2 linked regions of the Homo sapiens genome follow. The protein of the gene in region 2 purifies or fractionates together with the protein of the main gene of each other region. This does not show direct contact. Each region holds a gene or a part of one and is shown on either strand. Other genes may lie near its edges.

What was found. Proteins that work in one complex are often made in the same cells at the same time.
Region 1: the proteins of ALPL (region 2) and SPCS2 purify together in Homo sapiens (affinity purification with mass spectrometry; 2 studies listed by BioGRID and IntAct, with this or other methods). This does not show direct contact.

What each region holds. Positions count from the first base shown.
Region 1 is NC_000011.10:74,973,260-74,979,556, forward strand, and holds the end of SPCS2 (signal peptidase complex subunit 2), read left to right. Parts: intron 1-3,597; coding exon 3,598-3,784; 3' UTR 3,785-5,774; downstream 5,775-6,297. UniProt on the Homo sapiens protein: Component of the signal peptidase complex (SPC) which catalyzes the cleavage of N-terminal signal sequences from nascent proteins as they are translocated into the lumen of the endoplasmic reticulum.
Region 2 is NC_000001.11:21,512,394-21,519,422, forward strand, and holds part of ALPL (alkaline phosphatase, tissue-nonspecific isozyme isoform 1 preproprotein), read left to right. Parts: intron 1-7,029. UniProt on the Homo sapiens protein: Alkaline phosphatase that metabolizes various phosphate compounds and plays a key role in skeletal mineralization and adaptive thermogenesis.

The DNA of each region.
Region 1 (6,297 bases), on a different chromosome or scaffold from region 2:
TGCCTCTTCTTTGCGGTTAAACACACACCTAGTCTTTTGAAGATAATTCCTGGCTCATTGGCACTCTCTCTAACATTTGTCCTTTCTTAAGTCTTGGTGATTGCCATATTCACATAGATGGTTATTCTAGTAACTTGGCCTCTCAGTTTTACTTCCTTTCTTCCCATTATCCTGTTTTCTATCATGCCTTAAACATTTATTTTCATAGACATACCCTAGTAGACCTTGCAATTAATAAGAACAAATTACCTGCAATAATTTCAGTTTTAAGTATCCCACCCTGACCATTGCTTCCTGTTACTCTCATTTATTTCCTTCTAGTTCTCTTGTCACGGCATTTCTTCTGCCCCAGTGGCATCTGTAACCCACTTCACTTCCTCCTTACCTGGCTTAGATTCCATGACACTTCTGTAGTCCAGTTACTCTCTCCCTGTCCTGGAGGATCTTTCATATCTTCCCTGTCCTCAAACCTGCTAGGCCTCCTCCCCCATCTTTACTCTCGGTTTTTTGTTGTTGGGAAGATAGAAGCCATCATAAGTCTACCATCACTACTCACCTACTTCCAAGTACCTATCTAAGGCCTTCCCTCCCTTGGGTCTATGGGATTCTATCTCTTCTCTCTTACTTGATGTTTTCCTCTCTGCTGGATCATTCCTTCTGACATACAAATATACTGTAATTTCTCCCAACTGAAAAAAAAAAAGGTTTTCTTTCCCCTTCTGCTTCTCACACAGTCTCCTCATTTCTCTGCTCTCCTTTTCTTCTTGTGCTATCACCTGGATCTGCTCTTGTCTCCTTTACTTGACCTGTCAGCAGCATTTGACATAGCTAATTACCCTTACTTTGTAATACTTTTTTTTTTTAACTAGGCTTCTCAGATACCACACACTTCTAATTTTCTTCTTACCTTAATGTTTGTTCCTCAGTCTCCTTTGTGATTCTTCATCTCCCATTTTTTTACATTTGAAATGCCACCAGGGCTTGTTCTGGAACCTCTTCTCTATGATGAAGATCTCTAAATTTGTATTTTCATCCTTGACCTCTTCTCTGAACTCTAAATATATTCTGGCATTCTTTTTGATGTTGGATCCTAATAGGCATCTCAAAGTCAACAGGTCCAAAACCTAACTCATCTCTCACTCATCCAAACCTGCCCTTCCCTCAGTTTTTCCCACTTCAATAAATGGCAGTGCTGTCCTTACAGAGCTCTGGAGTCATTTTGACTCCTCTTTCTCAGTCCTTCTTTAGTCTGTCAGCAAATCCTGTTAGCTCCACCATCTAAATGTATTGTCCAACCATTTACCATCTCCACAGCTACCATCCTCTCTCACATATGTTACTGTAATGATGTTCTTTTTTTGTTTTGTTTTTTTGAGACAGAGTCTCACACTTTCATCTAGGCTGGAGTGCAGTGGCGCGATCTCGGCTCGCTGCAAGCTCCGCCTCCTGGGTTCACACCATTCTCCTGCCTCAGCCTCCCAAATAGCTGGGACTACAGGCACCAGCCACCACGTCTGGCTAATTTTTTGTATTTTTAGTAGAGACGGGGTTTCACCATGTTAGCCAGGATGGTCTGGATCTCCTGACCTCGTGATCTGCCCGCCTTGGCCTCCCAAAGTGCTGGGATTATAGGTATGAGCCACGGCACCCGGCCCACTGTAATGATGTTGTAATGGACTTCTGCAGCCCTCTCTCCACCCATAGTCTATTCCCAGGACAGCAAGCAAAGTGATCCTTTTGAAACATAAGTCAGATCAACTCAGTCTTTTGCTCAAAACTCTCTCAGAGAAATTGCCAAAATCCTAAGGATGGCTTAGAAGTCCATACATGTCTATTCTCTGCACTCCACACACCGATGCAAACATACCCTCATCTCCTTGGCTCTCATCCTCTCCCACTTCATTCTGTTCACATTAGGCCCCTTTCTGTTCTTAAGACATTTCAGGGATGTTCTTGCCTCAGGGCCTTTGCACTTGCTGTTCCTTTTTCCTGGAACATTCTTTTTCCAGATAGCTTATTCTCTTACCTTTCTTGTCTCTGCTCAGACATCTGCTTAGTGAAGGCTTTTCTGCCCATCTATTTAAGAGAACATCTTCTTTTTTTATACTGTCTGTTCCCTCACACACACTAAAATGAAAGTCCCAAAAGGCAGACATTTATATTATGTTCACTGCCGTATATCCTTACCATCTAAAACTGCCTGTCACATATAGGTAGGCTCAGTAAATATCTGAATTAATGAACATTTCTAAAATGTATCAGGTCACAACTCATCAGATCATGGACTGCCACCAAAGCCATGTAACTGCCAATAAAACTGGGCACAGAAGTCTAAAAATTACTGTGATATCAATTAGCAGTTGGTCAGAACTTGAGAAAATATTTTGAGGTGTTGAAAATAGTTAAAGGAACTTCACTACTAGCTCTCCAAGTTGGGAGTTACTGCCTAGACCAACAATTATTGAGGAGCTGTGACCTTTTGAGCACTAGTTAATGATAGACACTGTTTTAGTCATGACAGTAATCCTGAAAGCAGGTGGAAGTTCTCCCATTTTAAACATGCAGAAATAGAGCCTCAAGAAACTGCTTCATTTAAAGATAATACTAGCTTGACAATCCACTGAATATGTCCTAATAAATGGAAACAGGGTGGGGGATGTCAGCCTACCAGTAATTGGTGTCATTAAACCCTCTTGAATGAATGGACATAGTAATGGCCTTCAGGGTACCTTGAAGTATAGCTAAAGGAATCTCTGGAGTTCATTTAGTAAAGCAGTTGGCATCCCTGGCCTGGGATCAGAGTAAAACCTGGAGCTAGATTGATTACAGAGTGCAAGGACTAGGCACCCCGGGATTGGAGAGCATCCTTGAAAGCAAGGGTTCTTCATTTATTTATAAAAATTTGATTGCCTACTAGAAGCCCAGCTAAGAGTATGAAGCAATTAAGACAACAATCTTTGCTCAAGAATCTCCTAGACAATCCTGATTCAAGCACCAGAAACAAAGGGAAAAGAAACCTCCCAGTCTAGTGAAGAAAGTAGTACACATCATGTCAACAGATAGGTAATTTTGTTGATACCATAAGAGCCTATTATTAGGCCTGGCATATGACAGGAGGTCAGTATTTGAGTTGAGTATTGATTGATGGTACTGTGGAAGACAGAGGAAACACATCTGACCCAGATTGGTAGGCTTTCCCAGAAAAGTTTATGCCCAAGTATAGTGTTAACAAATAAGAACTTCTCAGGTGAGATAGGGGAGAAGAGTCTGCGAGGAAAACCTGTCTAGCATGGCAAATACGAAGTCCAGAGATGAGAGAAGATGGTCCACGTGGTTTAAAAGTCTACAACAAGGTAAAGGAGGTACACAGTAATTAAAGTAGGAAAGATATGTCAACACCTAAGAATCAGAACTAGTATCTTGAAAAGTTAGGAGCCCTGGGGTTTTGTTTTTGCTTTTGCTTTTAAAGGATGTGTTTGTTCCCTGTATCACCGTGCCCAGCTTACTCCTTTTCTTCGGAAACACTTGGTGCCGTATTGTTACTGGTTGAATCTCTGTGTTTGGTTTTTAATTTGTTATCTTTGCCCCCATGCTTAGGTTTGATGACAAATACACCTTGAAGCTGACCTTCATCAGTGGGAGAACAAAGCAGCAGCGGGAAGCCGAGTTCACAAAGTCCATTGCTAAGTTTTTTGACCACAGTGGGACACTGGTCATGGATGCATATGAGCCTGAAATATCCAGGCTCCATGACAGTCTTGCCATAGAAAGAAAAATAAAGTAGCCAATTCTAAAAGTAGCCCTCTTTCTCCTGGATCTTGCTGAATTAGTGGCTTGGGGGGTGGGGGAGATAAAAAGAACTTAAAATGGGTAAAGTAAGAAATGTTAAAAAGTCCCTGTTTTGTCCTGAAATTTTAGTCTATTCTGGGTAAATAGGATTTTCTGACACAGATATGAGAAGTTGTAGCTCTGATGTCTAGCTGTAGTCTCCTTGATCTGCTGATTGCATTATTTTAATTTGCTTTTCTGGGAAAGCAGTTTTGCTAAAAGCTGTACAGACTTTTTCTTTTGTACCTAGCAGTACTTTATATAGTATAGCTTTGGGCCATGTAGCATTTTAAGACTCAATTTTAAAAAATTATTAATCTGTTGCTGACTCTTAATTCCTATTTCAATATGTGTTTCCTTGAAGAATTCAGGATACAACTTCTTGTGTATGACAGCTTTCCTTCACACACTATTTTTGTGGGTGTGTATATATCTGATTTGGGAAGAATTTAAAAAACACATAGCTTTTTAATTTGTTTGAAACAGACTTTCTGCCTGTTACATTTTTGCTTTTAACCAATTAAAGAAGCCAATGGCATTTTAGTTTTATATTGTGTTTTCCACTAGTATATCCCTGTTGATTTGTTTGTGCCTTTTATTAACTGCCATTTTCTAAAATTTTTTTCAATAAAAGGAAGGAAGATGTGAAAAAAATGGAGTCATAGTTTTGATGGAGAGAACAGAGAAACAAGTGTTAACATCTTTCTACTATAGGTTTTTTTCATTTTTAGGCTATTTTACTTGTCAAAGGCCCCTGAGAACCTGTAGCTAAGGAACTCTTAGCTTTCCAGTGATAATAACAATAATAACAACATTCTGTACTTACTTTGTGCCAGAAATGCTCCAAGTACTTTACATGTGTTAATAATGCTCACAGCAATCCTAAGAGGCAGGTGCTGTTATTATCCCCATTTTACACATGAGGAAACTGAGATACAAAAGTTAAATAATTGTCACACAGCTAGTGATAGAACTGGGATTCAAACCTGGGGAGTCCGGCTTCAGAGTTTGTGGTCCTGCAGAGACAAAACAGCCGCTTTTCCAGTATTTTCCCAGTATGGTCAGAGAAGACCTGGGTGCTTGCCAAGATCCTTTGACCTTTAGGAATATTTCCCTACAGCCTTACAAAACATCAATTTTGGCTGAGCCTAGTACCCAACACTATATTCAGTTTGTAAGAAATTACCATTATCACATTTCCTGTTTGTCTTGGAGAGGTTGTCCTATCTCGCACCACATGGTAGGGAATTGTGAACAACACTGGACAGAAAGTTAAAGCCTTGGATTCTGTACTCTTCATTCCTGTAAACCTTGGGTAAGTTTCGGAATTCTCTGTGAGCTTCTTAAAGTTTTTGAAAGCATGTAACCGGATAAGTGTATTTTTACAATGGAGGAGTTACAGTCATCTTGGTATTTGTGGGAGATTGGTTCCAGGATCCCCAAGCATACCAAAATCCAAGGATGCTCAAGTCCCTTATATAAAATGGTATAGCATTTGCATATAACCTACACACATCCTCCCATATACTTTTAATCACCTCTGGATTACCTATAATACCTAATATAATGTAAATGCTATGTAAATAGTTATACTGCATTGGTTTTTTAATTTATATTTTTTGTTATTTTTTAAAATATATTTTTAATCCATGGTTGGTTAAATCTGTAGATATAGAGGGCCAACTGTACTGTTAGACACAAGGGTCTCGAGGCTTGCAGATAGAGACTGAATAACCCTCTCCATGATGATCCCTTAGAGTTCCCCCACTGTGCCTTTTTCTTTACATGTGCATGCAAACATGTGTCTCCACATACATTTTTTTTAACAAAAATTGAATTATGTTGATATATGTCCTGTAATTTGTGTTTTAAACTTAATATATCTTAGGCATTTTCCCTGTGTGTGTGTATAATGCAGCTATTAAAAATGAGTCTGAGGCCAGGCATGGTGGCTCACGCCTTTAATCCTAGCACTTTGGGAGACCAAGACAGGTAAATCACCTGAGGTCAGGAGTTCGAGACCACCTTGGCCAACATGGTGAAACCACATCTCTACTAAAAATACAAAAAATTGGCTGGGCATGGTGGCAGATGCCTGTAATCCCAGCTACTTGGGAGGCTGAGGCAGGAGAATGGCTTGAACTGGGAGGCGGAGGTTGCAGTGAGCCGAGATCACACCCTGCACTCCAGCCTGGGCAACAAGAGCAAAACTCCGTCTCAAAAAAGAAAAAAAAAAGAGTCTGACATACATATATATAAAAGAAACTGTTCTAAAATACCAGAAGTGCAAAGGCAGGGGACCAATTGCAACAAGTAGCTGGGGTGATAACCCCTATATATATATACACATAGGTCAGTCTCATTTTTAATAGCTACATAATATTCCATAGTATAAGTGATTTTACTTTAATACCCTATTGATGATAATTTTTCCCCAGTTTTTTTCACTATTCCAGGAAGGAGTATGGA
Region 2 (7,029 bases):
AATGGTTTTCCAACTTTGGGCTGAACCAGCATTGATGTTATTAAGACATTCATATTTCCTGTGGAGCAATTTCAAAAGCAGTTAACTTTATCCCTACCAGGTGATCCTGAGGGCCTGAGGGAAGTCCACGTTTAGGTCACAAAAGCCTACACAGCAGGGAAAACACTGGTTTGGGGGCTGGTGTCTTGGATTCCAATCGCCAGCTGTGTGACCTGAGGCAAGTCACTTTACCTCTCTGAGTGTCAAGCTCATAGGAGGCCCCCAACATCAAGATATGATGCTCAGTGTCTGAAGAACATAGTCTCCGTATTTTTCTGCCTCCTTGTACCAGCTCCCAACCCCCCCGCCAACACTTCGTTAATTGCTCCCAGAAAAACTCTATGCTTAAAGTTTTCCATGCTTAAATTCTCAGCCTCACTGTGGCATGAAATCAATTGTTTGCATTGAATTTGACTTCTCAAATTAAGGGGTAAAATTTGAGATGAGAGTAGGGGGTTAGGGAGGAGATGAGGACGAAGTTAAACCAGATGTGCTTTTGTTTAATTGTAGGATGGTGGTTAAGCTGCTCAAGTATTACCATCGTTCTTTCTGAATTCCAGTAACCAGGAGTCAGGTTTCACAAAAAGTCGTAGTGTTCTTTCCTGGCTGGTGTGGACTCGCCCTCTCTATTATTATTATTATTATTATTATTACTATTTTGTATTCATCTGAGGCCACAGAGTACTGGCCAGAGAGGAGACATAGATCCCCAGAATTTCAGTTGGAAGGCCTTTAGAAGCTGGCTCGGTCAACTGGGCTCTTGGTGCACCAGGGAGACTGAGGCCCAGAGAGGAGAAGAGGCTTGCCCAGGGTCACACAATTGCTTAGGGCAGAGTGGACTGGGAATTCAGTCTCCTGGCCTTAAGCTACATGATCTTTCCAAAGGCAACCACTCTCCTGAATTTGGTGTGTTTCATTTCTACAGTATATTCTTAGCATATCTGTTTTTTGAAAATCATTGTTTAAGGGAGGATGCAGATGATGTGGGTTGGTGGAAAAAGATATTAAGCTCAGGAGAGCTGAGCTGAAGTCCTTGAATACCTCTGTGACCTTGGGCAAGTCACTTCCCCTGTCTGAGTCTCAGATTCTTCATCTGTAAACCAATATATCTGAGGAGTAGGAGTGGAGAGATGAGACTTCCCTAAGACTTGGAATGGGTCTAATGTATTCAACTGGTCCTCAGATATTTATAGCCTGCTGTGTGCTGGGTTATGGGAGATCCATCACAAACTGCCTTCCTAAGGCTGCAGGGGGTGGGGGATTGTTGACTTTTGCGGTGATTAAACAACTTTTATTTAGTTGCTGGTGTTTTTAAACCAGGCAATTTCATTTTATATAAAGATAAGGATTTCTGGCTTCTCTTGAAAGATCAGAAGATGTGGCCATATGGGGCTATGTCCCTGCCTGGCCACAGTGGCTGGAGCTGATTAGCAGCTGCTCCATCCACTTTACCACAGTCTCCACCACGCCCCACTGCCTCACACTTGCCCACCTGCCTCCCTGACATTACCTACCTACCTTCTGAGCTTGCGGTTTCTGGGCTAGATGCAGTGAGGCCATGTAAGAGGGGCTCAAATTCCACTTGAATGATTGTGTGGGGCTTGGGCCAGCCCTCAGGGGGCTCAGGGTGAGAATATGGGACACGTGGACACTAGCCCCTCTTCCATAGCCTGGCAACATCTACAAAACATGTCAGCTAGGCGAAGGAGCTTTTTTCCTGCTTCGGTGGTCCTCAGGAAGAGTCTGAGGGCTCTGGAGGTTTGGGGGTGATAGAGCATCTACCTGTCAAGGCTCAGCGAGTTGAGCCCAGGGTCTAGCTGGGGACAGGCATCGCTGGGTACTTCATTCTAAAGATTGCACAGCCCCTGCAGGGAAGAGACTCCCTTGACAGCTTCCACCTTACCCCTTGCTCCCCAAGAGCCCTGTGCATTGGTGCGCCACTTCACCCTGTGCTCCCTAACAGCCCTGTGCATCAGTGCATAACCACTTCTCAGACAGGAAACACGATCTTGCACTCTGAACCCACAGCTCTCTGTTCCACCCCCTTTGCTGGGAGCCAGGGCCTGGTGATGACAGGCAGGTACCATGGTGGCTGCAGCAAGCATCTTAGAATCGCCATGTCTGAGCCAGAGGGTAGCACAGGAGGCTGTGAAGCCTGATGGTTACATGCGGGGGGCTCTGGAGGCAGCTGCTGTGATGTGAGATTCTAGGTCTCCACGAATCAACTGCTCCAGGGGTTATGAGATGGACAAGGGAGACTGATTGATTGTCGATTGCTGATACTAACCTCACATCCCCTGGTCCTTACACCTGCAGACGACTTCAGAAATGTGCCCTGTGTGGGAAGTGGCATTTTGTGAGCACCATTGGGTACCAGGCACTTTCGCACATTACCTTTGATACTCACCTACCCCCTACTCTCCAGCATTTTGCAGTTAAGGAGACTGAGGCTCAGAGGGCAGACACCTTAGGATTACTCCTCCCCTAGGTCTCTATGCCTCTCTGCTTTGACCCAGGGAAGGGAGGAGAGGACAGGCTGGAAGGTCATTTCTGGAAATAAGGCCGTGGAGACCCTGTAGTGAGGCCCTGACCCTCCAGACTTTCTAAGCCACCCCCTCCTCCTCCACTCCAGCTTGTTTCAGAGATGCTTCTTCATCCTTCCAGAGCTCAGTTTGTCATTCAGGTGCATGAACTTTACCTGGCCAGGTCTGCAAACTGCTGGGCAGAGCTCAGCAAATATTTTATGTTCTTTAAAAAAGTTTTTAGGTGGCTGAAGCAAATTGCTTTTACTGGAAAAACCAGAAGTGTGACCTTTATTTTATTTTTGCAGAGATGGGGCCCTGCTATGTTGCTCAGCCTGGGTTCAAGAAGTCTACCCACCTTGGCCCCTGAAAGTGCTGAGATTATAGGCATGAACCATTGTGCCTGGCCCACAAGTGCACCCTTTAAAAAGATCTACCAGGTGACCCTTTTTTAGACTGAGTATCGCTCTGTTCCCCAGGCTGGAGTGCAGTGGCGTGATCTCGGCTCACTACAACCTCCGCCTCCCGGGTTCCAGAGATTCTCCTGCCTCAGCCTCCCATGTAGCTGGGATTACAGGCACATGCCACCACACCCAGCTAATTTTTGTATTTTTAGTAGAGACATGGTTTTGCCATGTCGGCCAGGTTGATCTTGAACTCCTGACCTCAGGTGATCCACCCTCCTCGGCCTCGCAAAGTGCTGGGATTACAGGCATGGGCCACCACACCTGGCCCCAGTGACTTTTTGTTGGGTCAACCTCTTGCCTTCTTTAGTGCACCTTTACTAGGTCAGTAAAGCCACAGGGTGGGTACCACTTAGCTCTCAGGCTGACGTTCTCAGGCCTCTTGCTGGCTGTCACTGAAGTGTCTCAGGCTTGTTGTTTTTTTGTTTGTTTGTCTGTTTTGTTTGTTTGTTTTGTTGTTGTTGTTTTTTGAGACAGGGTCTAGTGGCTCTGTTGCCCAGGCTGGAGTGCAGTGGCACGATCATGGCTCACTACAGTGCAGCCTTGACTTCCTGGACTCAAGCAATCCTCCTACCCCAACCTCTCAAGTAGCTGGGACCACAGGCATTCGCCACCACGCCCCGCTAATTTTTTTTATTACTTGTAGAGATGAGGTCTTGCAATGTTGCCCAGGCTGGTTTCGAACTCCTGGGCTCAAGTGATCCTCCCACCTCATCCTCCCAAAGTGCTGGGATTACAGGTGTGAGCCACTGCATCTGGCCAGCCTGGCCTTTTGGAGGATCTCATCCCCCTCCACCTGTCTCCACCTGTCTCCACCTTGACTTACCTGTCTCTCAGCATACAGGAGTTACTAACTGACCCGTCTGCCGCCATTCTGGTGAGAAAATGTCTCATCTGAGGCCCATTTCCCCTCCTCCACTCCTTCTGAGCCCTTCTATAGCTCCTCTTCTTTCTCTGCCTCATTCCGCTGGTCCCTGCCATGCCACTACTAACTAAAAGTCCATAGACTATAAGCCCAACATGCACGTACTAGGCATGGTGCTCAGTGCCTTGCCTGTAATTACTATTTGGTCCTACAGCAGCGCTGGGTGGCAGGTGCTATTATCCCCACATTACAGATGAGGAAACGGAAACACAAACTCCCCCAGCTGGGAAGTGAGAAGTAGACATGTTTGTTCCCTGCGGTGACCCATCCATCCATTCAAGGCTACTGCTTTCTCCGTAATGCAAATGACATAACCCATCTTCCTAGAAGAGTCAGTTCCCTATTTATCTTAAAACCATCCAATATAGAAATTCATATTCTAGGTCTGTTAGCCTATCAAGATATCAGAGATAAGCAGGTTTCCTCTCAACAGCTTGTCCAAGCCCTTAATCACCTAAGTGATTTTTTTGTGTGTGAAAATGCTGTTTTTTTGCTTTTCCCCATGACCTAATCCTTATACAGATGCTCCTTGATTTACCAAAGGTTTTTGTCCTGGAATTGTAAGTTGAAAAATATCATAAGTAGAAAATGGTTATAACACCTAACCTGTCAAACATGGTAGCTTAGCCTGACTTACCCTAAATGTGTTCAGAACAGTTACATTAGCCTATAGTTGGGCAAATCATCTAACACGAGGCCTATTTCATAATAAAGTGTTGACTATCTCATGTCAATTTCTTGGCTATACTGTATTGAATGTGAAAAACAGAATGGCTGGTTGGGTACTCGAGGTGTGGTTTCCACTGAACACTGTAGCTTTTGCATCATCGTAAAGAAAAAAATCTTAAGTGTAAGTTGGGGACAGTCTGTAATGAACATTTAAGGGCTTACTCTGTGTCAGAAACTGAGCTAATCACTTTGAATGACCTTATTGTATTGAGCTCATAATTCTTTCCATTTTGCAAACAAGGAAACGGAAGCTCAGAGAGATTGAGTAATGTTCTCAAAGTTTGGAAAGTGCAGGTGAGACTCAAATCCAGGGTTGCCCAATCAGATTGGCATCTGGATTCAAATTTGCATGTTTGGAGAAGAGCTCTCAGGGCACCTTGTGGTACACATTTGTTTTTCAGTGAGTGTTTGCAAATGACATGGGGGTGGGAGGCCCCAGGGGGAGGAGACAGAACATAGACACACCTGGTGGGGCACCAGCGTCTGTTCTCCCAGACAGTGTTTCTTAGCCTGTTCACCCCCTCATAGGAAATGACAAGCCTAGAAGGAAGCATCCTGAGAAACCCAGAGGGGCCTGGGTTTGAATCCCAGCCCTGCCATTTCAAGCTGTGTGACCTTCGCCAAGTCCCTTTCCCTCTCTTAGCTTCTGGCTACCCTCCCTACCACGCATGGTTTATTTGAATGAGGCAAGGCCTTAGGATTTTTCGATTTGTGGATGGCGAATAGCCAGCATGTCTCCTTCCTCTCTCCTGCCCTGCACCCACATCAGACATCACTAGTCAACCACTGCTTGCTTTCCTTCCCAGATTCCTTCTAAGTACAGTGCTCCAGACAGCCATTAGCAACTAATATAGAGTTGGCACACAAGATAAAAGGACATCCCAGAACCAGATTAGATTTGGTCATTGTGTGGGTGGGGGTAGGGAAGGGATAGGCCCAGGTGGCACCCAGTTCAGTGTCACGGTGCTCCTTGGTCTTCTTTTCCTTGTCTTTGGAGGAACTAAGCTAGACTGTACCAGGGCCCACCCCAGGTGTGGGGTAGGAACCTTTTATGAGGCACAGAGCTGTGCCCGTGTTCAGTCCCAAGGGAGAGGCAGGTTTCTGGGCCTCATCACTGTCTAGGCTTAAAGTAAGAGTGACGAGAAAGAGGCTGGTTTCAGGTCCTCCTGGAAAGAGTTAGGCCTGCCCCTCTCCACCCTTTGTAATAACATCCATAGTAGTAATAAGAGTTCTCGACACTGACGGACCACTTGTTACGCACCAAGCCACTCTGCGAAATGCTTTGTATACATTTACACATTTAATCCTTATACCAGCCCATTTTTCAGGTGAGGAGAATGACTCAGAGTAATTAGCCTGGGTTTGCCCAGCTGGTAAGTGTCGGAGCTACGATTTGAATTCATATCTGTCAAACCCCGAATAAATAACTCTTATTACTACGATGGATATTATTACAAAGGATGGGGAGGGGCCAGCCTAACTCTTTCCAGGAGGACCTGAAACTGAGCTCTTTCTTTTTTTTATGGTATTCAGAACATCACTTTATAAACTGTTGTCAGATTACCATTTAAACATTAATACCCAAATACAGAATTTAGACAATTACTTTAAATTGTAACTGTACCATCCCCAAGCTCTCAGCTATGAATTTGGTTTGGGGAGAGGGCTCCGTAATAGGCCACTGAAGTCCCCCGTCCCACCCCTTTTTTCTCCCCTGAAAACTAGCTGCCTGACTGCTCTGCCAGACTTGGGCTAGAACTTGGCTTCACTGTGACAGTGGGACCACCTGGGCCCTACAGTGTGGCAAAACCGACCCGCCCACAAACTCCATCCCAGGTGTTGAGATGCTAACACACTGAAGCTGAAAGACCCCACTTGGTTTTGCCACAGATCAAGTTGCATCTGACTAGAGAGCCTGTCCTCTACCCTATTTCCTGCACAAGTCTTTTTCTTTGTAATGCAACAAGCGCTACTCAGCTCAGATCCAGTGGGACACAGGGAAAGGGGCTGTAGTGTAGCCCAGCCTTGCTGAGGGAGACCCCTGCCTCGCCAAAGCACTTCGCTCACAAAGGCTGAAACTGGCCTCTTTCTCGTCACTCTTACTTTAAGCCTAGGCAGTGATGAGGCCCAGAAACCTGCCTCTCCCTTGGGACTGAACATGGGCACAGCTCTGTGCCTCATAAAAGGTTCCTACCCCACACCTGGGGTGGGCCCTGGTACAGTCTAGCTTAGTTCCTCCTGCTTTCCTCCACCGCAGGCTCAGTGCGGGGCCCGCGGCCTCTGCGTCTTTCTCTCAGCTTACCATGATCATTTCTCATTGATGAGTGCGATACGTCTTTGCCCGTGGAAA